Regions from separate parts of the Homo sapiens genome. Here all the other regions are linked to region 3. Evidence: fine-mapped expression QTL. A gene starts in region 3. Each other region holds a variant in brackets. All regions are shown on one strand. Distances are from middle to middle. Region 1 has its middle 33 kb from the start of RWDD4. Region 2 has its middle 42 kb from the start of RWDD4. Region 3 holds the start of RWDD4 (RWD domain containing 4). Region 4 has its middle 24 kb from the start of RWDD4.

Evidence for each region. PIP is the estimated chance that this variant, and not a neighbour inherited with it, causes the effect. A credible set is the group of variants that fine-mapping cannot tell apart.
Region 1: its variant is the best candidate, but not a certain one, in a credible set for the expression of RWDD4 in whole blood (INTERVAL, PIP 0.63).
Region 2: its variant is the best candidate, but not a certain one, in a credible set for the expression of RWDD4 in pancreatic islets (PISA, PIP 0.55).
Region 4: its variant is the best candidate, but not a certain one, in a credible set for the expression of RWDD4 in whole blood (INTERVAL, PIP 0.78).

The regions. Positions count from the first base shown.
Region 1 is chr4:183,622,928-183,628,730 of GRCh38, forward strand. No RefSeq gene overlaps it. Among named protein-coding and RNA genes, the nearest start is that of RWDD4, 33 kb to the right of the region's middle. The variant C/T (reference allele first, on the strand shown) is at 2,963.
Region 2 is chr4:183,614,111-183,619,913 of GRCh38, forward strand. No RefSeq gene overlaps it. Among named protein-coding and RNA genes, the nearest start is that of RWDD4, 42 kb to the right of the region's middle. The variant C/T (reference allele first, on the strand shown) is at 3,107.
Region 3 is chr4:183,656,773-183,662,575 of GRCh38, forward strand. RWDD4 (RWD domain containing 4) reads right to left here and starts at 2,413. Exons shown (of 8, transcript NM_152682.4): 1 at 2,157-2,413. The coding sequence starts at 2,180. It overlaps TRAPPC11 (trafficking protein particle complex subunit 11), which reads left to right and starts at 2,521. Exons shown (of 30, transcript NM_021942.6): 1 at 2,521-2,675. RefSeq lists enhancers at 1,620-2,408, 2,323-2,452, 2,409-3,196 and silencers at 1,928-2,148, 1,963-2,172, 2,543-2,832.
Region 4 is chr4:183,632,003-183,637,805 of GRCh38, forward strand. No RefSeq gene overlaps it. Among named protein-coding and RNA genes, the nearest start is that of RWDD4, 24 kb to the right of the region's middle. The variant T/C (reference allele first, on the strand shown) is at 2,855.

The DNA of each region.
Region 1 (5,803 bases), 34 kb before region 3:
AACATTGAGGAATCTAGATGAAGAGTATTAGCAACCTCTTTGTACATTTTTTGCAATTGTTTGTGGTCTGAAATTACTTCAAAAATGAAATGAATAGAAGAAATAATCTTATGAAATCCATTACTATACTTGTGGGAGGCTTAAACCTCTGCATCCCAATTGTGAAACTTCATATGAGCAAATTCTTACAATTAAAACCTATAAAAGCTTTAATTTTTTCCAAAGGTTGTAGAGTTTCTCTTTTTGCCTGTTTAAAGTATGAAACTGTTTCCCTTTTATCCTTGACATTCAGAAAGCTCAGGGCTAAGTAGTATCTGTAGTTTCTAGCTAACTATAGTGACCATGGAGGACCCTATAGAAAACACTCTGTGGGCCGGGCACAGTGGCTCATGCCTGTAATCCCAGCACTTTGGGAGGCCGAGGTGGGTGGATCACCCGAGGTCAGGAGTTCAAGACCAGCCTGGCCAACATGGTGAAACCCTGTTTCTACTGAAAATACAAAATACTGTACATAAAACCCCACCAGGTGGCGACTCATGCTCCTGTCCCCACTTTACAGACGGACAAACTGAAGCACAGAGAAGTTAGGGAGCACACAAGCTCATCAGCTTAGAAAGCCGGAGAGCCAAGGGTGGAACCCACGCAGCCAGCACTGTTAACAAACTGGAACTGTGCGGCCATTCAAAGGTGAGAATTACAGAGGGAGGGAGCTCACTTCATGCTTGCAAGAAGATCTCAGCACAGAGTTGACCGAGGCAACAGTTAAACAGTCTTGAAAATAAATACGCGTCCACATTATATTGTTACAATTTTTTTTTTCTGAGGCAGCATCTTGCTCTGTTGCCCAGGCTCTAGTGTAGTAGTGTGATCTGGGCTCACTGTAGCCTCGACTTCCTCAGGCTCTAGTGATCCTCCCACCTCAGCCTCCTGGGTAGCTGAGATTACAGGCGCCTGCCACCACGCCCACTAAATTTTGTATTTTTAGTAGTAGTTTCGCCATGTTGGCCAGGCTGGTCTCGAACTCCTGGGCTCAAGCCATCCACCCACCTCAGCCTCCCAAAGTGCTGGGATTACAGATGTGCACCACCACCACGCCCGGCCTATTGCAACAATTTTAAAATTAGCATGTGGAAATATAAAATAAAATAATAATTTTTTATTTTATATTTTTCCTGAAATTTTTGTATAAATAATTGAAACGCATTACATTTATTTTTTGGAGTTTATTTATTTTTACAGAGTCTCACTGTCACCCATGCTGGAGTACAGTGGTGCGATCACAGCTCACTGCAACCTCTACCTCCCAGGTTCCAGTGATTCTCCTGCCTCAGCCTCCTGAGTAACTGGGATTACAGGTACACATCACCACGCCCATGTAATTTTTGTATTTTTAGTAGAGATGGGGTTTCACCATGTCGGCCAGGCTGGTCTCCAACTCCACCGTGCCCAGTCTTCCATATATTTACTTTACTGTTCTCCTTCTCTGTCTCTCTCCTAATGTATTTCTCTCTATATATACATGTACATATATATAGTAATCCCCCCTTATCGGCGATTTCACTTTCTGTGGATTTAGTTACCTGCATCCACCCACCTCGGCCTCCCAAAGTGATGGGATTACAGGTGTGAGCCACTGCGCCCGGCCCCCATTATATTTATTGATAATGCTCTCACATATGATACCAAAGAACTGGGTCAGGGAAGGGAGGACTTCCAGGCTAGAGAAATATTGTTAGGGAGTCACAGACGAGGCAAAGGTATGTGGGTGTATATGGGTGTGTGTGTGACTGAGGGTGAGTGTGAGTAAGTGTGAGTGAATGTGGGTGACTATGAGTCGCCCTAGGACAGGAGGGTGTTCTGGCCAGGGCGGGTCCCACCTGGTGCCCTAGGCTGCTGTGAAGGACTGTGTGGCCACTCCCGACCCTGAGCTGGAATAAGCAGGTAAGTCTTTGTCTGACTTGTTTTGATTAATCCAAGATGTTAAAGGAGTAGGAGAGCTGGCTGTTTCTCTCCATTACTGTTGTGTAGGGGAAAAAAAGACCAATATAGATATAGGATTCCCTCAGTATCCACAGAAGATTTGTTCCAGGACCCCTTCAGATACCAGAATCCAAGGATGCTCAAGTCCCTGATATAAAATGGCTTAGTATTTGCCTAGAACCATACACATCCTCCCGTATACTTTAAATCATCCCTAGATTCCTTATAATACCCAATACAATGTATTGCTATGTAAACAATTGTTATATTCTATTGGTTAGAGAATACTGACCCCCAAAAAATGTCTGTACATGTTCAGTACAGGCACGATTTTTTTTCGAGTGTTTTCGATCCACAGTTGGTTGAATCCAGCAATGCAGAACCCATGAACACGGAGGGCTGACTGTATATATATATATATATATATATATATACATATATGTATGTATGTATATATATACACACACACACAAGTTTAAAAACTGTCTGCAGAGGAGAGGCTGAATAGAGAAATGTGGTCTTTGGGCCAAACACTAGTACCCACCAATGATAATTAAAAAAAGCAGGAGTAGGCCGGGTGCAGTGGCTCATGCCTATAATCCTAGCACTTTGGGAGGCCAAGGCGGGTGGATTACCTGAGGTTAAGAGTTGGAGACCAGCCTGGCCAACATGGTCTCTACTAAAAATACAAAATGAGCTGGGCGTGGTGGCATGTGCCTGTAATCTCAGTTACTCGGGAGGCTGAGGCTGAGGCAGGAGAATTGCTTGAACCCAGGAGGTGGAGGTTGCGGTGAGCCAAGATCACGCCATTGCACTCCAGCCTGGGCGGCAGAGCAAAAACTCCATCTCAAAAAAAAAAGGAGTATTTACTAGCTGACCTGGATGTCTTACGTGCTACCCCAGGCTGGCCTGGCCCAGCTGGAGTCACAGGGGCGTAGGCAGGAGGCTGCCTGCCTGGAGCAGGAATAGGGGATGCAGAGGT[C/T]GGCTACAGGCACCTGGCACCCTTTTCTCAGCATGAATTGTACCTACCACCTGGCTACAAGTGTGGGTTCTTCCCATCAATCTAGCTCATAAAACCCTGTATTTTCCTTCATAAAATCTACTGTAAGTTGTAATTATAAGCAAATGTACTTCTACTTAACTTTTAACAGAACAGCTTGCACAGATCCCGCAAAGAAATTAACCAAAGAACCAAAGAAATTAACATCATGAACAGAGGCTGGGCACAGTCATGTTGAGGGTGACCAACTTGTCAGATCCGCCTTGGCCTCCCTAAAGTGCTAGGATTACGGGCACGAGCCACTGCACCCGTTTTATCACTGAAAGTCCTGTGTCCTGGGAAACCTCTCAGTAGCCTTACTATTGGGCGGTTTATCTTGGCTGCAGGATAACTGCTGGTACATACAGGCACCTTTGTACAAACTGGGAAAAGGAAACCCATCCTTTTGGCAGACCAACCAGGAAAAAGGTTTTCTTCGTCCACATTGAGACTGTCTCAAGCCTGGGCATACAGCTTGGTGATTCATGTGAGCCCCTTGAGCAAGTACAAACATACAGGATGGCCTTGCTTTGCCGGGATCACAAGCTTATGGTCCAGGGGTTGAATTCTAGCCCATGGCCATATTTTTTTAGGCCTGTTTTTTTGAATATTTTAAGTACAAATGTGTAAAATTCAGGAGAGTCTACATAAAAACACAACTTTTAGGCCAGGTGTGGTGGCTCATGCCTGTAATCCCAGCACTTTGGGAGGCCGAGGCAGGTGGATCACCTGAGGTCAGGAGTTCGAGACCAGCCTGGCCAACATAGCAAAACCCTGTCTCTACTAGTAATACAAAAACTAGCCAGGTGTGCTGGTGCACACCTGTAATCCCAGCTACTTTGGAGACCGAGGCAGGAGAATGGCTTGAACCTGGGAGGTGGAAGTTGCAGTGAGCTGAGATTGTGCCACTGCACTCCAGCCTGGGTGACAAGCGCGAAATTCCGTCTCCAAATAAATAAATAAAAATGAAAACATGACTTTCTGGCTACTGTTTAAAAGATCTAGTAATGCTCTACTTTTCTTCTTCCATGGCAATAACAGGCTGGAGTCACATAGCAGCGGCTAACTTTGAACTCCACAAATCACCATACTCCCCATTACCCCTGACTGTCACTGACTTGGAGGCTAAGTAGAAACTCATCATTCCTTAGTGCTTTGTGTTGTTTTTTTTCTCTAAACCGAACCTGCTTACATTTTGTGACAGCCCAGCCCCTGTAGGCTTTGTGGTTCTTGTCTGTTTGAGACAGGGTCTCGCTTTGTCACCCAGGCTGGAGTGCAGTGGTGTGATTATACCTCACTGCAGCCTCAAACTCCTGGGCTCAAGCGACCCTCCTGCTTCAGCCTCCTGAGTAGCTGGGACTATAGGTTGAGCCACTGTGCCCAGCTCCCTGTCGGTTTTTTAGCATTCAGTCCCTGCTACTATCTGACTCTCCATTGATCACAAGGTGAGACTGCAGCAAGTTCAAACCTTACAGCCTCTTGGCTTAAGCCAGAAAGCAAGAGCATCTTCCTTGGAGTCCTGCCAAATCTCATTGCATACTACTGGTTCTTAGTAAGTCCAGACCAAACCTTCCTTTGTTGTTGTTGTTGTTTTTGAGACAGAGTTTTGCTCTTGTTGCCCAGGCTGGAGTGCAATGGCGTGATCTCGGCTCACTGCAACCTCCATCTCCTGGGTTCAAGTGATTCTCTCCTGCCTCAGCCTCCCGAGTAGCTGGTGTTACAGGCAAGCACCACAACGCCTGGCTAATTTTGTATTTTTAGTAGAGACGCGGTTTCACCATGTTGGTTGGGCTGGTCTTGAACTCGACCTCAGGTGATCCACCCGCCTCGGCCTCCCAAAGTGCTGGGATTACAGGTGTGAGCCACTGCACCCGGCCCAGACCAAAACTTCCAACAGCACATGAATGTTGTATTTTTGCACTTCCATTTGTTTGCAATCTCAGATTTTTGATGCATGTCTTTAGGGTTCTGGTGGCTTGGAGGAAAGATCATGTATCTACTGTGTTTGTGTTTAGATTTCAGGGAGAGTAAGGCTTCTAGGAGGACATTGCTCCTGAGCCATATTTGGAGGAAGGTAAAGGACAAGAGGAGCGGGATGAGTATTTCAGATTGAGGACGTGGGCCAAGGGAGAACCAACCGCCCATGGCGAGGGAGAACAAGCTGCTCTGGGGCTCCTTACAACTTTCCCAGCTGTCTTTCTCCCCCTTTCTGTAGAGGCTGATGCTATTTGTGATGCCCATCTTCTATAAGCTGTCAGCCAGAAACACCTGCTGAAATAAAGGCCATCTGTTCTGAATGCTGAATGCGCGGTTGTTGGGATCTCCCAAGAAACACACACACAAAAATGAACTTACTCCAAGGAAGCCAGACTTGACATGGACCCTCTGGGGCTTTGACGGCCCTTGGCCTCCAGTGGACGTCCAGAATCAGGGAAGACATTGCTGTGGCCTTCTCGGTACACTATGGGCTCCCATCAGGTAGAGGTCGCGCTGTGTGAGCTGGTGTGTCCCTTTTGACTCAGGGAACATGCTTGCTTGTCTGCACTGCAGTGAGTCCCCAGTGAAATGAAATGGCAGGTCTTCAGAGGCATGAAAATGCCAGCTGTTGTGTGTCATGGAAAGACGCACCAGCCTGGGCAAGTCAGAGGCAACCCAGAATAAATGGATCCACTGTGAAATGGGATTAATACTGGTTTCTACCCCATGTGGAGATCAGAGACTGGGCAGTTATTAATATTAAAGTGGAGCTTTGCTGTGCAGGTCAGCAGAAAGAGGGGTAGTGAG
Region 2 (5,803 bases), 43 kb before region 3:
ACCACTAAACACAGGCATTGTCAGAGGCGTGCCATTCTCCCAAACAGAGCCCCAGAGAAACTCCAAGCTCAGGGTCAACAGAAATGAACACAGACCTTAGTTAAAAGGCTGACTGCCGATTGTCATGTCTCGCTGCCACGTTGCATATAAAAATAGGAAAACATAAACATCAAGTAGAGATGTGTGTAAAGGATACTAATAGTCAGAGAAACACACATGGCCCTTATGCACATAAAAAGATGCTCAAATTCTCTAGTAGTCTAGTAGATTAGTGCAAAAAGAATGATGACAACATACCATATTTTACTCATTTGAAAGCTGATACTATCCTGTTTCAGTAAATGTATGGGTGAATGGTCTCTGCCTGTTGGTAGGAATCTAAAGGTATAGTTGTTTCTGTTTTTTTTTTTTTCCTTAGTTGCTCCAGAGCTAACTCCTCGGCAGTGCACCCAGAGTGAGTCTAAAAGTACAGTCTTCTGGGATGACAATTTGTCACCATCTAACAAAATGTCCCATGTCTTCGTACAGCAATTGTTCTTTGACTTAACAGAAATATTGACACATGCAGAAGAATACAAGTGCAGGAATATACCACATAACATGGTTTGCAATGGCTAATAATTAGAAACAATTTATAGAGAAATGGATAAATTACAGTTTATTTATAGTAAGGAAAACTATGTTTAAAAGATCTGACAGGGAAAGACCCTTAAGATATATTGTTTAAAAAAATAAGCAATGTGCACCCGGGATAATCCTAATGAACCCAAAGTAATCACAAGTGTACTTACAAGAAGGAGGCAGTGGAGTTAGGGTCAGAGAGAAGATGTAAGGATGGGCACAGAGGTCAGAGAGAGGCGAAGATGCTTTGAAGATTGAGGAAGGGGCCTTGAGTAAAGAAATGCAAAAGCCAGGAAAGGCAAGGAGACAAAATCTTCCCTGGAGCCTATACCTCTTTTGTTGTTGTTGATTTTCAAACAATTACGAACATACTGAAATTTTCAAGAATAGTAGGACTTTTTTTCCCTGAACCATGTGAGAGTAATGCTGACACAAAGCCCCATCATTCTGAATTCTTTAGTTTGTAATTCCTACAAACAAGGAGATTCTCCTACACAAGCAAACATACCACCAGCAAAATCAGGAAATTAACAATGAAATCTTCCTACCACCTACTCTACAGATTCCACCCCAGTTTCTCCAATTGCACCAGTCGTATCCTTTATAGTCAAAGGATCCAGGACAGGGTCTCCCGCTGCTTTCACTGGTCATGTCTCTACTCACTTTCAATCTAGAGGCTGTCTTCTCGCTGCCTTCTATCAGGTGGCAAATGATTCTGATTTGTCCGTTTCTGCTGAGATCAACTTGATTAAGGTGGTATTTGTCAGATTTCTCCACTGTGCATGACTAATGTTTTGGAATCAGTAAGGAAACGTGGGACTATTTAAATATCCCATTTCTTTCTTTGTTTCTTCTTTCTTTTCTTTCCTTTCCCTCCCTCCCCCTCTCTCTCTCTTTCTCTCTCTCTCTCTCTCTTTCTCTCTCTCTCTCTTTCTTTCTGATAGTCTTACTCACTTGCCCAGGCTGGAGTACAGTGGCGTGATCTCAGTTCACTGCAACCTCCACCTTCCAGGTTCAAGCAATCTTCCTTCCTCAGCCTCCCGAGTAGCTGGGATTACAGGTGCCCGCCACCACGCCCGGCTAATTTTTGTATTTTTAGTAGAGACTGGGTTTCGTCATGTTGGCCAGGCTGGTCTGGAACTCCTGACCTCAGGTGAACCGCCCACCTCGGCCTCCCAAAGTGCTAGGATGACAGGCGTGAACCACCGTGCCCAGCCTCAATATTCCATTTCTTATCAAACATTGACTCACTGATTTTAGCTTCCATTGATATTTTTGGATGATTTAATTATTGCCTTATTAATGACCAAACAGTGATTTTTCTAACTGCATCATTTTTTTCTCCATTTACTTGTTGCCACTTGCATTAGTGTCCTATTGTGTGTCATACTGTATTAGTGCTGCTATAACAAACTACCATAACCTTAGCGGGTTAAAACAACTTAAATGTATTATTTTGTAACTCTGGAGGCCAGACGTTCCCCATCGGTGTCACTAGGTTAAAATCAAGGCACTGGCAGGCCTGTGTTCCTCTTAAAGGCACCAGGGAAGAAGCCGTTCCCTTGCCTTCTAGCTTCTGGAGGACGCCTGCATTCCTGGGCTATGGCCCCCTCCTCTATCTTCAAGCCATCAGCATAGCACCTTCCCTCCTCTCTGACCTCTGCTTTCATCCGTTTATCCTCTCTCTGATTCTGCTCCTCATGGCTGCTTTGTGTAAGCGCCCTTGTGACCACATTGGGGACCTCCCCCCCATAATCCAGGATTATACACACTCATCTGCATTTAAATCTACATATTATACATAATATAGACACATATTTGTATAATATATTATATCTTTATTTATCTATATAATTTTTTTGAGACATGGTGTCATTCTGTCACCCAGGCTGGAATGCAGTGGCACGATCTTGGCTTACTGCAGCCTCAACCTCCTGGGCTCAAGCGATCCTCCCACCTTAGCCTCCCAAGTAGCTGGAACTACAGGTGTGCACCACCACACCTGGCTAATTCTTAATTTTTTTGTAAAGAAGGGACCTCACTGTGTTGCCCAGGCTGGTCTCAAACTCCTGGCCTTAAGTGATCCTCCGACCTTGGCCTCCCAAAATGTTGGGATTAAAGGCAGGTGTGAGCCACTGCACCCGACCCTTATCTATATATTCAAAACCATGAGTTTGCACCAATGCCTTTAATTCCAATCCAACACCATAAGGTTCAGATTAGTTGTCTTATCATTCACCCTGCAGCTCATTTCCAACAATGAAAAGCCTGACTCCCACCACTTTCAATATGTTTCACTATTGGACTAATCCCTCTTGTGTGTGTTCAGTCTCCCCTCCTGGCCAGACCCCTCCACTCTCCTCACACTACGCGGCCTGCCAGGTGAAAACAATACAGGGACTGCCACTAAGCCCTACTTTTTTTCTTTTATTTTTCTTTCTTTTTTTCCCCTCCCTCCTTCCTCTTTCTTTTCCCTCCCTTCCTC[C/T]CTCCCTCCTTTCCTTCCTTTCTTTTCTTTCTCTTTCTTTTTGTTCCTTCCTTCTTCTCTTTTTCTTTCTTTTCCTTCCTTCCTTCCTCTCTCTCTTTCTGTCTCCTTCCTTCCTTCCCTTCCTTCCCTCCCCTTCCCTCCCCTTCCTTCCTTCCTTTCTTCTTTCTTTCTTTCCTTCCTCTTTCTTTTTTTTCAAGGTCAGTCTGGCTCTGTCACCCAGGCTGGAGTACAGAGTGGCCTGATCTTGGCTCAAAGCAGCCTTGACCACCCTAGGCTCAAGCTATCCTCCTGCCTCAGCCTCCTGAGCAGCTGGGACCACAGGGCTGCACTACCACACCGGGATAATTTTTGTGTCTTTTGTAGAGACGGGGTTTCACCATGTTGCCTAGGTTGGTCTCGAACTCCTGAGCTCAAATGATCCACTCACCTTGGCCTCCCAAAGTGCTGGGATTACAGGCATGAGCCACTGGGCCCAGCCTGTTTTTTTCTTAAATACTACTACTTAGAACTAAATGTGAAATCATCCAAATATCATATTATCCTAAATTTGATTAAGATAATTACTGTTGGCTGGAAAAGGTAGTATTACATATGGCTTAATTCCTTTACTGTATAGTCCACAGAGATTGAGACTTTAATCTTCACATTGAGTGGAAAATAAGAGAGAATATGTTCAGATGACAGTAAAATAAAGTCAAATTAGACTTTCAGACAAAATTACATTAAATATATTTTGACATTGAAACAAGTGACCAAGTGCAGTTGAGGAATTTCTTTGACTCATGACATTTACAGTAAGAGTAAATATAGAGGCCGGGCACAGTGGCTCACGCCTGTAATCCCAGCACTTTGGGAGGCAGAGGTGGTTAGATCACAAGATCAGGAGATCCAGACCATCCTGACTAACACGGTGAAACCCCGTCTCTACTAAAAAATACAAAAAATTAGCCCGGCGTGGTGGCGGGCGCCTGTAGTCCCACCTACTCGGGAGGCTGAGGCAGGAGAATCACTTGAACCCGGGAGGCGGAGGTTCCGGTGAGCCGAGATCGCACCACTGCACACCAGCCTGGTGACACAGCGAGGCTCCATCTCAAAAAAAAAAAAAGAAAAAAAAGAAAAAGAAAAACTCAGCTGTTAAACATTTCTTGCTCAAATAACTTCTGTAAAATGCTTAATAGAATAAATAATCGTATCAGTCAGGGTTCTCTGGAGAAACAGAACCAATAAGAGATATATATGTATGTGTGTATGTATACATACACATACAAAGAGACAGCGAGAGAGATTTTAAAGAATTGCTCAAGTAATTGAGGAGGCCGGCAAGTCTGAAATCTCTAGGACAGGCCCACAGGTTGGAAATTCAGGCAGGAGTTGATGTTACCGTCTCGAGTCCGAAATCTGCAAAGCAGGCCAAGCCCTCCGGAAACTCACTCAGAGTTTCTGTGCTGCAGGCTCGAGGCAGAATTCCTTTTTTCTCGGGAAAGGCTCAGTCTCCGCTCTGAAAGCCTTCAGCTGATTGCATGAAGCTCACCCACATTCAAGAGGATAATCTACTTTACTCAGAGTCAGCTGATTGTACGTATCAATCACATCTACACAATACCTTCACAGCAACATCCAAGTTAGTGTTTAACCAAGCAGCTGGGCCCCACAGCCAAGCCAAGTTGAGACATAATGAACCATCACTGTCTCTGTAACTATCTGTTTTCAAAGAAACATTGATTTTCTTTCGCAATCACTTCCAGAAGTTTGACTTAGTATTTCCTACACACTGTTTAACTAACATTGAATTAACTCTTAGTTCCTAATAAAGGTTTGCTAACACATACATACAAATCTTATTAGAAAATTGATTTGCATGTGTTAGAAAACATATTTATTGCATTATTTTGGAACAGTTTTAGTTTTTGCATTATCTCTTCTGTGGTCATATATTGGATTTTCTTTGATGCTTTTCACTGATGACAGCTATTTGGGGGAAAACATAGATGATTTTTACAAAACGCGTCACTGAAAGGGTTTGGGCAGACAACAGTGCGTCTTTTGGTGCAGGCTGGCACTCACACGCAGAGATGCCGCAAGATCAGTCTCCACCCCTCAGACCTCTGCGGAGGGACGCTTGGGTCCGGCTAGTTGGACTAAGACAGCCCCGGACTGCAAGGAAAGGCCTCAAGGCCCCGCCCCCACTCATTTGGGTTCTCTTTTTAAAGGGCAAACCCGAGTGGCCTTGCCAGGGGGAACAAAATGTCTGCTTGGGCATCGGGCAGGCTGGGCTTAGGTGACAGCTGTTCAGGCAGTTCGCTGTCTGGAGAGCCTGTTGCCAGCACCTGTTGACCTTGTGAGAAGTTCCATTTGGGCACAGCCCCTCCTGCAGGGGGAGGGGGGAGGTTCTGGTCCCATTTAGATTGTTGCCAGGCAACCCATATCTTCAGGGTCAGACTGTCCTGTTTGTCTTTCCACAAAGTATACAGACAACCATAAACAAAGCATAGCTTAAGTAACATTTAGATTGTTGAGGGAACATAAAATAGGGCTTGTTTTTTCCGTCCCCCTCCCTCATCATTGCCCAAAGATGTTACTGATTTGAAATAATTTTTAGATGATCTGCGTGCAAGAAAAAACACAGGGACGGCCAGGCGCGGTGGCTCACGCCTGTAATCCCAGCGCTTTTGGAGGCGGAGGCGGGCGGATCACCTG
Region 3 (5,803 bases):
CCCAGCACTTTGGGAGGCCGAGGCGGGCGGATCACCTGAGGTCAGGAGTTCGAGGTCAGCCTGGCCAACACGGTGAAACCCCATCTCTACTAAAGACACAAAAATTAGCCAGGTGTGGTGATGGGCGCCTGTAGTCCCAGCTACTCAGGAGGCTGAGGCAAGAGAATCGCTTGAACCCAGGAGGCGGAGGTTGCAGTGAGCCGAGATCGGGCCACTGCAATCCAGCCTGGGCTACAGAGCGAGGCTCCGTCTCAAAAATAGCAACAACAACAGCAAAAAGACATTGTTGAAGAAACAGTGTGTGAGGAACTGGGACATTAAGGAGTAGACCCTAAGACCTAGTAAGTATATGAAAAACAAGATATACCCTTCTTAGATAGGGAAACTTGATTGGCACAATGAAGAAAGGCATAAAACACCGACTATATAGATTTCAGCCAGGCTCCACAGGTTTCTCTTGCTACCTTTACAGAAAAAACAAAAAAAAACAAAATACAGAAATTCAAGCCGGATTCAAGAATAACTAAGATTAGATTGGAACAAAAACCTTACTCAAGATATAGTACTACTCCTTCTGTCCCTAATCCTTTCCCATATTTTAATTTATGACTTGGACAGGTACAAAAATAGGAGGCAAGTTTATTAAATTTGTGGATGACAATTTGTTGGGACAGTGAATAATGCTGATGGCTGAATAAGAATCCAAAAAGTCTTTGAAAAGCAAGCTAATGATGAAATTTAGCAGGGTAAGTAGAACTTGTATCAATACTCAGATACCTAAATGTAGAAGTTGAAGATGAAAGACAAATTGCTTTGTATAAAGCACTTAAAAGATTTCAGTTGACAGTAAATTTAACTAGACAAAACAGCAAGATGCCACAATTTTGAAACAGGACATTTAAAAAATTAAAATCTGTCCACAAACACGTGATTCCAGGATAGTGAAGAGATTAACAAAGAATGGATATATGAAGACAAGCTAAAAGGAACCACTTCCTCAGAGAAGGTCTGAGAAACTGGGCAGGAAACTATCTTCAAAGATCAGAACATCGGTCATCTGAAAGAAGAATGAAATTTTCTTGTTAAACTGGAGATTCCTGGGCCCACCACAGAAATTCTGATTCAGTAGGTCTGGGGTGGAGTGCACGCATCTGTTTTCTAGCAACCATCTAAATGGTTCTAAGGTAGGGGACTATGGTCCAACTCTGAGAAACATTACACTGTATGTTCTTTGCTTTGCAGGGAGAAGAAGCTATTAACGCATTCACTTAGAAATTCACCCGGCAAGAATATTTTAGAAGAGATTCAGATATCAACTAGCTAGCTTGTTGGACTTTGGGTCCTTTAAAGGTTAACTTCCAATCCAGAGATTCTATTACATTTATCATGTAAAAGTAGTAAGTTTCAAGCATTATACTTTAAATTAACAGTGAACTTATCTACCACCCAATAAGACCTGGTTTCTAGTCCCGATTCTACCACGTACTTACTGTGCAGCCCTGCGGCTATCATCGACCCACCTATCAAAGTTAGAAGGTTCCCCTACAGATGGCCCGTAGCACCCACCCCCCAACTCTAATATTATATGATTCAATGTCAAAATGGCATCTCACAAGGAAATATTTGAGCATAAACCATAAATTCAGGTGGTACATGAATGCTCAAAACAGACAGATGGGTAAAAGATTTCCCCAAACAATATGGACAGAAACTCAGATGCACCACCAGTGTCATTTTCTTCCATGAGAAATGTAACTAACTCAATTAGCCCTCTACTAGCCAAGAGATTTAAAGATGACCAGACTAAAATTTAAAGGTGATCAGCCTAACTCAGTAAACAGGCACTGAACACATGGGATTCAAGGAGAGCCAAGAGCACTGGATCGTGCACCAAGGACGCTCATCCCTGTTATTAAGTAACCAGGGGAGACTCCCGGATTTGCAAAAATGAAAAATGAGGGGGGAAGAGTGGCAGAGGCGGACTCCTGGCCATTCACGCGCGCTTGGGTGGGACGCCGGTGAACTCGGGGCACCCCGGCCGGCTCCGAGGGCACAGGGCACGTGCCGGGCAGGCTGTCCGGGCACCAGGTCTCACGGGGGCCCGGGGCTGCGCGCCGCGCCCGCGCTGGGAGAGGGCCCTGAGCCGGGGGGCTCACCTCCTGGTCCTCGTTGGCACTCATCGCGCCGGTCGCGGGGCGCCTCCTGAGCGGACGGCGTTCGCAACAACGAAGAGAAAGCGAAGGCAGCGGCCCAGAGGCCGGGCGTCCCCCTTTCGCGCCTCGGCTGTGGGGGCGGCACAGTCTTGGCACTGGCAGACGCCAACTGCGCGCGCCCCGAGCCTCGGCAGCGCCCAGCCGCCGGCAGTGGGCTGTGGGCTACGAGCCGGAGCCGCGGCTGGTGGGGCCTGGGAAGTGCAGCGTCTCCCTGACGCTTGGAGGAGCGGCGTAAAGTTCCGGGACAGCGATTGGTGTAGAGCGCGGTCACTCAGGCCCAGAAAGTGCTTCCTGTGCCGGGGGAGGTGGGTACAGGGAAGTCTCGCCTGTTGGAACTGGCTGTGGGGCTGCGGCGGTGGGGACGGGCCACGGCGTTCTGTGACATCCCCCCGCCTCCCCTCGTCTTCTCCCGGCTGGCGGCGACCGGCCTCAGCTGCAGCGGGCCCGGGGCGTGGGGCCTGGGTGAGTCCGGGCCCGGAGACCCGCGGGGCCAGGCGGGACCGCCGAGGAAGAGAGCTAGCTCTTAACAATGCTGGTTTGGGGGCCTGCGTTTTGCAATCCCATCGACGGGTGCAATCCTGGCACTTCTCTTTTAGACCCGAGGAAAGACGCACCCGTTTCTAGGGCCTCCCAGGTTTAAGACGGGGGAATAAGAGGAGGAAGATATCTGCCTTTAGGGACTGCAAGGTTATTTCTCTACCTTTCCTCACTGGAGCTACCAGAACAGATACTGGGACCATGGGGACGGTGTTTCTCCTACGTTGGATTGTTGCTTCTCATCTTTAACATCGAAACATCATTTCGTCCCCACACTGTCGTTCCTCTTTTGTTCGTTTTGTAGTTGAACATCTCTGAATCCCATTCTTAGCAGCCTTGTGTCCTAACACCCTGAACTTCCAGTTAGTTAAAAGAAAAAAAAAGTAACCACATTAGGTTTTGGGGTTTTTTTAGTTGCCAATTTGATTGGGTCACCTTTCTTATCTTTCACGCTAGTTTCCAGTTTACTTCCCTTGCATTACTTGATCTCCCATCCATTATTCACCTTCTATAGCTGCGCCTCCTTTCGTGTATAGTTTCGTTGGTTGCTCCATTGGATATCTGAAAATTTCTCCTTCCAGCCTGTCATTGAAATCCATTCGATCTGCGCCTGTGCGTTATCGGGGTTCTCATTCAAATTCCTTTGCTGCAGAATAAGCACGACCATTTCAGGTGACATAGGAGAATGTGGCAAGACTTTCTGATACAATTTTCGTGCAGCAATTTTGGGACACATTTCCCATAATTTAGATCTCTGCTGTCCAGTTCTGTAGCCAGTAGCTACATCAGGCATTTGAAATAGGCTAGTCTGAATTGAGATGTGCTGTGAGTGTGAAATACACACCAGATTTTGAAGACTCAGTACAAAAAAAGGTAAAATATGTCATTAATAACTTTTATATTATTGTCAGTATGATAATATTTTGGACATACTGTACTGCGTTAAATTGAATATTAAAATGAATTCCATCCACGTTTTACTTTTTAATATGACTGCTAGAAATTTTTAATTTATTTATGTGACTTGTATTTCTATTGGATGACAGTCATTTTTAGTTCCTCTTATTTCAACTCCATATTTAAAGACCACAGCTATGTCTTTTGGGCCTCTGGAGTTATTACAGGAAATGGCCTCTAGTCTAGACTCGTTCATATTAAGCAAAGGGGCCCGTATTGTATTTTGGTCACTTGTTTTTTGTTGTTGTTGTTGAGACGGAGTCTTGCTCTGTTGCCCAGGCTGGAGTGCAGTGGTGCGATCTCGGCTCACTGAAATCTCCGCCTCCCGGGTTCAAGCCATTCTCCTGCCTCAGCCTCCCGAGTAGCTGGGACTATAGGCACGCATCACCATGCCCGGCTAATTTTTGTATTTTTAGTAGAGACGGGGTTTCACCCTATTGGCCAGGCTGGTTTTGAACCGTTGACCTCGTGAATCGCCCGCCTTGGCCTCCCAAAGTGCTGGGATTACAGGCGTGAGCCGCTGTACCCAGCCTGGTCACCCCTTTTTAATTTTCATTCCTACATTACCCAGAACTAGACTGTTTCTTTCTCTGAACATGCAATCCTTTGCCCTCATAACTTAATCCTGTCCTAAAAATATTTAAACAATTCTAAAACAATCTGTTGTAGACATTTCTGGCAAGCTTTGCAAATCATTTATTGAATACCTGTTGTTCTTTCAGTATGTAAACATGAGAAGACTAATAGTCTTTCCTAAATTAACCTTTCAGTTGAAAATATTCCATGTTTTGGGGATTAGGTATTAGCCTAAGTGTGCCTCACTTTTCACAAAGATTGTGTTAGACTTCTCCATAATATACTGGTATACTGGTGTAGATTACCTTTTTTTTTTTTTTTTTTTTTTTTTGAGACGGAGTCTCCTCGCTCTGTCGCCCAGGCTGGAGTGCAGTGGCGCGATCTCCGCTCACTGCAAGCTCCGCCTCCCGGGTTCACGCCATTCTCCTGCCTCAGCCTCCCGAGTAGCTGGGACTACAGGCGCCCACCACCATACTCGGCTAATTTTTTGTGTTTTTAGTAGAGACGGGGTTTCACCATGTTAGCCAGGATGGTCTCGATCTCCTGACCTTGTGATCCGCCCGCCTCGGCCTCCCAAAGTGCTGGGATTACAGGCGTGAGCCACCGCGCCCGGCCAGATTACCTTTTAAAAGAGCCTCATGACACATTCTTTTTCAAATAAGATTATATTTAAAATGTAGTGATAATTTTGTTTGGAATAACTTTTTTTTTTTTTTTTTTTTTTGTGGCACAATCTTGCTCTGTCACCCAGGCTGGAGTGCAGTGGCACAATCATAGTTCACTGTAACTTTAAACACCTAGACTCAAGTGATCCTCCCATCTCAGCCTCCCAAGTGGCTGGGACTACAAGTGAGCACCACCATGCCCGGCTATTTTCTTTTTTATTTCTTTTAGAGACAGGATCTCACTATGTTTCCCAGGCCAGTCTTGAACTCCTGGCCTCAACAATCCTCTGGCCTTGTCCTCCAAAAGTGCTGGGATTATAGGCATGAGCCACTTGTGCCTTACCTGAATTCTCTGTAATATGCTGGTATAGATTATCTTTTAAAAGAACCTCATTTGGGAGGCCAAGGCTGGCAATCGCCTGAGGTCACGAGATCAAGACCATCCTGGCCAACATGGTGAAACCCTGTCCACTAAAATACAAAAAATTAGCTGGGTGTGGTGGTGCATGCCTGTAGTCCCAGCTACTAGGGAGGCTGAGGCAGGGGAATCACTTGAACCCGGGAGGTGGAGGTTGTAGTGAGCTGATATTGGGCCAGTGCACTCCAGCCTGGTGACAGAGTGATACTCCGTCTCAAAAAAAAAAAAAAAAAAGAACCTCATGTTGTTACATCCTTTTGCAAGTAAGATTATATTAAAAATATAATGACAGTCTTGTTCGGGATAAACATAGTTTTATATACTTATAAAGTCAGGGCATACGTTAGATTTATTATGGACTGATTCTTAGCTAAAGGACGCAGTGGAAACATCCTCCGAGAGGTTTCCATTCATTGTTAGTTTTTCCCTTACAGATT
Region 4 (5,803 bases), 25 kb before region 3:
AAATGTTTCACAAACAGTATCTACTCTCAGAACACGTATTGCATTCCGATCAATATATTCTATTCAACTGTTTTGTTCATTAAAAAAGATGTTGCTAAAAATCTACTACATTGATTTTTTTTTTCTTTTTTTGAGACAGAGTCTTACTCTGACGCCCAGGCTGGAGTGTAATAGCGCGATCTCAGCTCACTGCAACCTCCGTCTCCTGGGTTCAAGCGATTCTCCTGCCTCAGCCTCCCGAGTAGCTGGGATTACAGGCACCTGCCACCACGCCAGGCTAAGTTTTGTATTTTTAGTAGAGAAGGGGTTTCACCATGTTGGCCAGGCTGGTCTCGAACCTCTGACCTCAGGTGATCCACCTGCCTTGGCCTCCCAAAGTACTAGGATTACAGGTGTGAGCCACTGTGCCCAGCCCTAAATTGAATTTGTATCCACTACTAGGTTACAAACCAGCCTGCCTGAAACACACAGGTTTAGAAAATGTATTTTTCTCTGTTTTGATCATTTATGTATTAGAATAACAGCCAAGATTTTATAAACCGGAAAACATTTGATATTAATATTCAAGGACATCTGATTAGAACAAAGGTGACAAAGTATTTATTTTAAAAATAATCACCACCACTTATTGCCTACTCTTATAGTATTAGGCTCTTTACAAACATTTTCTCCAATCTCTTAAACAACCTTGTAATTTACGGTACTCTTGTTCCCATCAAGGGATGAACCCCAACCTCACAGAGGATGGCCAGAAGTAACAACACCCAAAGGAGATGACCGAGCAAGCAAGCCGATGGACTTGCCACAGCGCATGGTTGCCGGCAGTAGATAAGACTTGGTGGATCCGAGCGAGACAATTCATTACTCTCAGCACAGCACACGACAGCAGCTCAGCATGACAGAGCTTGGTCTCCTGACCCCAAGTCCCGTGGCACAGGCCAGGCTCTGCACCTTTGATAGCAAGTGGTAACAATCCAGTCTCCTCCCTATGGGACAAACAGTGGCCTGGCAGTCGTGCTGTGGTTGCCTCTACGACTAGCTACACAAATGGCTACACCCTGGTCAGAGCGTGGTGGGCCCTGCAGGTTGGCATAGTCTGCAAAGACACGCAGGGTCCCGGGGCCCGTGGTGGACTGACTCTCTCAATAATTCTCCACTTTATAGTGGAAAGACATTATTTTCTTTTTTTGTTTGTTTTTGAGACTGAGGCTTGCTCTGTTGCCCAGCCTGGAGTGCAGTGGCGCGACCTCGACTCACTGCAACCTCCGTCTCTTGGATTCAAGCGATTCTCTTGCCTCAGCCTCCCAAGTAGCTGGGATTACAGGCATCTGCCACCACGCCCAGCTAGTTTTTGTATTTTTAGTAGATACGGGGTTTCACCATGTTGGCTAGGCTGGTCTCGAACTCCTGATCTCAGGTGATCTGCCCGCCTCGGCTTCCCAAAGTGCTGAGATTATACAGGTGTGACTCACCTTGCCCGGCCGAAAGACATCATTTTCTTACATCTACACAAATAATGTGGCAGGGTATGCATTCTCGTACATCCCCCTTACTCTGATGCAAATGCTTTTCTTTGATCCCCTGTCTAATCCGGCTCCTTTGACCCAGGACATACCTGAAGATACTGATGAGTATGGGCAAGTAATGACACAAGACTTTATCCCTGTACATGGATCATTTCACACAGACAAGCACAGACGTGGAAACAATTTCTAGAAGTGGAATTTCTGGACCAAAGGCCTTTGTGATTTTGATGGATATTGCTGAATTGTCCTTTGTCAAGGTTGCATTAGCTTACACTCAAAACAACTTGTGAGAGAGAACCGGTTTCCTCACACCTTTGATATGTCACCAAGCTATTCAGTCTTCGCCAGTGTCACAGGAGAAAAACAGAATCTCCCTGCAGTTTTAGTTTCTCTTGTGATGAGGGTGTGTCCTTTTGTTTAACATAAATTTACATTTCCTTTTCTGAAACTGTCACATCTAAGAGTTTTTTATGTATAAGTATACTAAAAGTACTTTTTCTTAGTTTTATTTATGCAATTTTTTCCACGCACAATTTTTTACATTTATGTCATCAAATGTAACATTTTCTTTATGGCTTCAGAGTCTTGTGTCATACTTTGGGAAGGTTGTCTCATCCTGAAACTATTTTTAAAATCTCCATTTCTTTTCTTTTCTTTCTTTTTTTTTTTTTTTTTTTTTTTGAGACAGGGTGTTGCTCTGTTGTCCAGGCTGGAACACACGGGCATGATCACAGATTCACTACAGCCTTGACCTTCCCAGCTCAGGCGATCCTCCCACCTCAGCCACCTGAGTAGCTGGGACTACAGGCACATGCAACCACACCAGGCTAATTTTTAAAATTTTTCGTAGAGATGGAGGTCTCACTATGTTTCCCAGGCTGGTCTTAAACTACTATGCTGAAGCAATCCTCCCATCCTGGCCTCTCGAAATGCTGGGATTACAAATCCATTTTATTTTAAAAGTTTTTTTCATCTCTCTGAATTTACTGCGATGTTAAGAGTGAGATAGGAGTACCTTTCCTTTTTCCCCCAGTGGCTCTTTGGTTCTCCAATACCATACATTGAAGAAACTGCATATTAAATTTTCTCATATATATATATTTAGGTCTATTTCTGGGCTCTATTTTCTTTCATTGATCTGAGCAGGTATCAGCACAGTATCACTTTAATTCTTGCTGCTGGAAATGTTTGACTAAATTTTATTTTTATTTTTTTTGAGATGGAGTCTTGCTCTGTCGCCAGGCTGGAGTGCAGTGGTGTGACCTCGGCTCACTGCAATCTCCACCTCCCCGGTTTAAGCAATTCCCCTACCTCAGTCTCCCAAGTAG[T/C]TAGGACTACAGGTGTGTACGACCACACTCAGCTAATTTTTGTATTTTAGTAGAGACGGGGTTTCATTATTGTTGGCCAGGCTGGTCTTGATTTCCAGACCCAGTGATCCGCCCGCCTCGGCCTCCCAGAGTGCTGGGATTACAGGCTGAGCCACTGCGCTGGGCCATGTTTGACTAATTGAAAGAACTAAACTCACATCATCACTGTTTTTGAAAAAAAATTTTTTTTTTTTGTCTATTCTGGTATGCTTAGTTTTCCTTAAGAACTTTGGAGTCAGCTTTTCTTTCTTTTAAAAATCCAGTTGCAGTTTCACTGGGATTACCTTACTTATTTATAGGATTGCCTTATTTATAGGATCAGTTAAACAAAACTAGTATCATTATCAATTGATTTTTTTTCAATTGCTTAGGCTAAAATCCAATTTGGAGTTAGCTTCGATGCCTCTAGCTCTCCCACATCCTTCGTTGGATTCACCAGCAAGCCCGTCAGCAGTTCCTTCACTATATATCCAGAAACTGACCGCTTCTCACCCACTCCCACCTCCCACCCTTGTCAAGGAATCGTCATTCTTCACCCACTTCCTCAACAGCTTCCTAACTGGCCTTCCTGCCTTCCCTCTTGCTTGCCTATTCTCAACACACAAGTCAGATCCCCTCACTCCTCCGCTCAATACATACCCTCTGAAGGCTTTCCGCCTCACTCAGTAAAAAGCAGACTTGGAGCAGAGGAAACAGCCAGAACAAAGGCCACAGGCAGGATCATGTTGGGGAAGACGAGGGGAGGGCCAGAGCTAGCAGGAGTCTATGGCCTTAGAGACTAGTTCACGCTAAAAGTAGCCGAAACTAGTTACCCCCGCGGGGTGGAGATTGTGAGAGAAGGGAAAAAGATCTTTTTTTTACAAAATTAAAAGCCCTGCAGAACTACTTGCCTTCTAAAACTATCTACATGTATGACTTTGATAAAAATAAAAAATAAGAAATTTTAAAACACTGACATATAAAAAGAAAAATATAGAAACCAACGGAAAAATGTAACAGATGGTATTTGTCAGCATGCAGCGGGAGTTCAGCTTTCCTTCAGCAGATGGACGGACATTCTTATAACCAAAACTGCATGATTCCTCAGTTATCATGAGAATTTCAAACAAAAAAAACTAACATCTATCAATTTAAAATTTGTGAGATGCCCGTGGGAGGTAAAGAATATTTTGTTAGTGTAATTTATCAAGTGAAATGGCAAAGTGACAATGGTAGGTTTAGCGATCTTCAGAAAAACAGAAGGGGGAGGAAAAGGTTTGATAGTTTTTTTGTTTTTGTTTTTTGAGACGGAGTCTGTCTCTGTCACCCAGGCTGGAGTGCAGAGGCACAAACTCGGCTCACTGCAACCTCTGCCTCCTGGGTTCAAGCGATTCTCCTGCCTCAGCATCCTGAGTAGCTGGGACTGCAGGCCACCCAGCTAATTTTTTATTTTTAGTAGCGATGGGGTTTCACCATGTTGGCCAGGCTGGTCTCGAACTCCTGACCTCAGCTGATCCTCCCGCCTTGGCCTTCCAAAGTGCTGGGATTACAGGCATGAGCCACCACACCAGGCCAATAGTTTTGTGTTTTAAAAATAATCATACTGTTGCGTAGATATTTGAAAAAAGTGTGATTTTAGTAATACAAAGGATAGTGAAGAGAATATGAAAGCTAAAGTGTTGGCTTTCTGCGAAGAAGCCTCAGAGATGAAAATCTCCCGTAGGCTCCAGGGTCCAAATCTTCGTATGTTCCTTCACAGATGAGACTGACTGTAAGCAATGCAGAACACCTACTGCCCTCTGTAAAAACAAACATATGGCATGCAGCGTCTTCTTGCCGTAGGAGCAGGAGAATGAAGAGCCGGAGCAGTTAGGAGGAAAAGCTTCCTCCTTAGTCAATTCCACCGCCATGTTAAACACAAAGATTTTCCCCGATTGCTTTGTGTACTCTAAAAACTGCCCCAGTGTTAAACTTTTAAGGTTGATTTCTAATCACCCAATTATGAAGCAAAATATTTTAAATCTGCATCCCCCCCTCCACTCCCCAACAGTTTCCTTCTTTTCTAAGCTGGATTCTCTTTCACTAACAACAGAGCATAGACGTAGTTTGTTATTTAAAATATCAAGAATAGTTTCCCAACAGGCCAGACTTCGTGGCAGGCAGAGAAAAGGACCTATTATAGATCCAGAAGGCTGCAGCCAAACAGGCAAGATCACTTAAAACTTCCCAGGTGCCAGCAATAACAAACAGAAAACGGGCAGGGGTGGGGACGCTTCCTGCCTTACTGTATCACCACAATCAACCTATTACGACAATTTATTCTGGAAACTAGATTTATACAGGAAGCTCAGCAAGCAAAAATGGTATTCCTCTAGAAATGGGAAAGTTAAAATAATTTTCTTATTTTTGGTTCTCATTAGTGAGAAATTAAGGCTATTAAAATTACTTATTTATTCAGGCATTGCCTCTTAAAATGTTCTCAGCTCTTCATATAAGCAAAAATTATCATGCAAGAATTTTCATTATTACAAATTTACAAAGTCATTAAAGATCTCATTCTCAATCAAACACTTGCTCCTCTCCTCATATTGTGCAATGTAGCTTTACTTAATTGATCTTCAGGAATAATGCAAAAATCAATGATAAAAGTCCTTAGCCCTTTGAAAGGCACATTTTGTGCCTCTGAAAATTAACAATCTTCATATAAAAGTCGTTTCATCTTTCGCGTGCTCTGATCAGTGGCTTTCACACTTTTTTCATGACTCATTTTAATAAACTTTACATAGTGACTCAGTACCCATACATGCACACCCCAAACTAAAGTTTTCACAGGGAAAAAAAACCCTCTTACAACAGGTAGTGCATGCTGGTATTTTCTGTTCAATTCTATTGTCTCCCATTCCATTAAAAAATGTTAGTAAAGACCCCTAA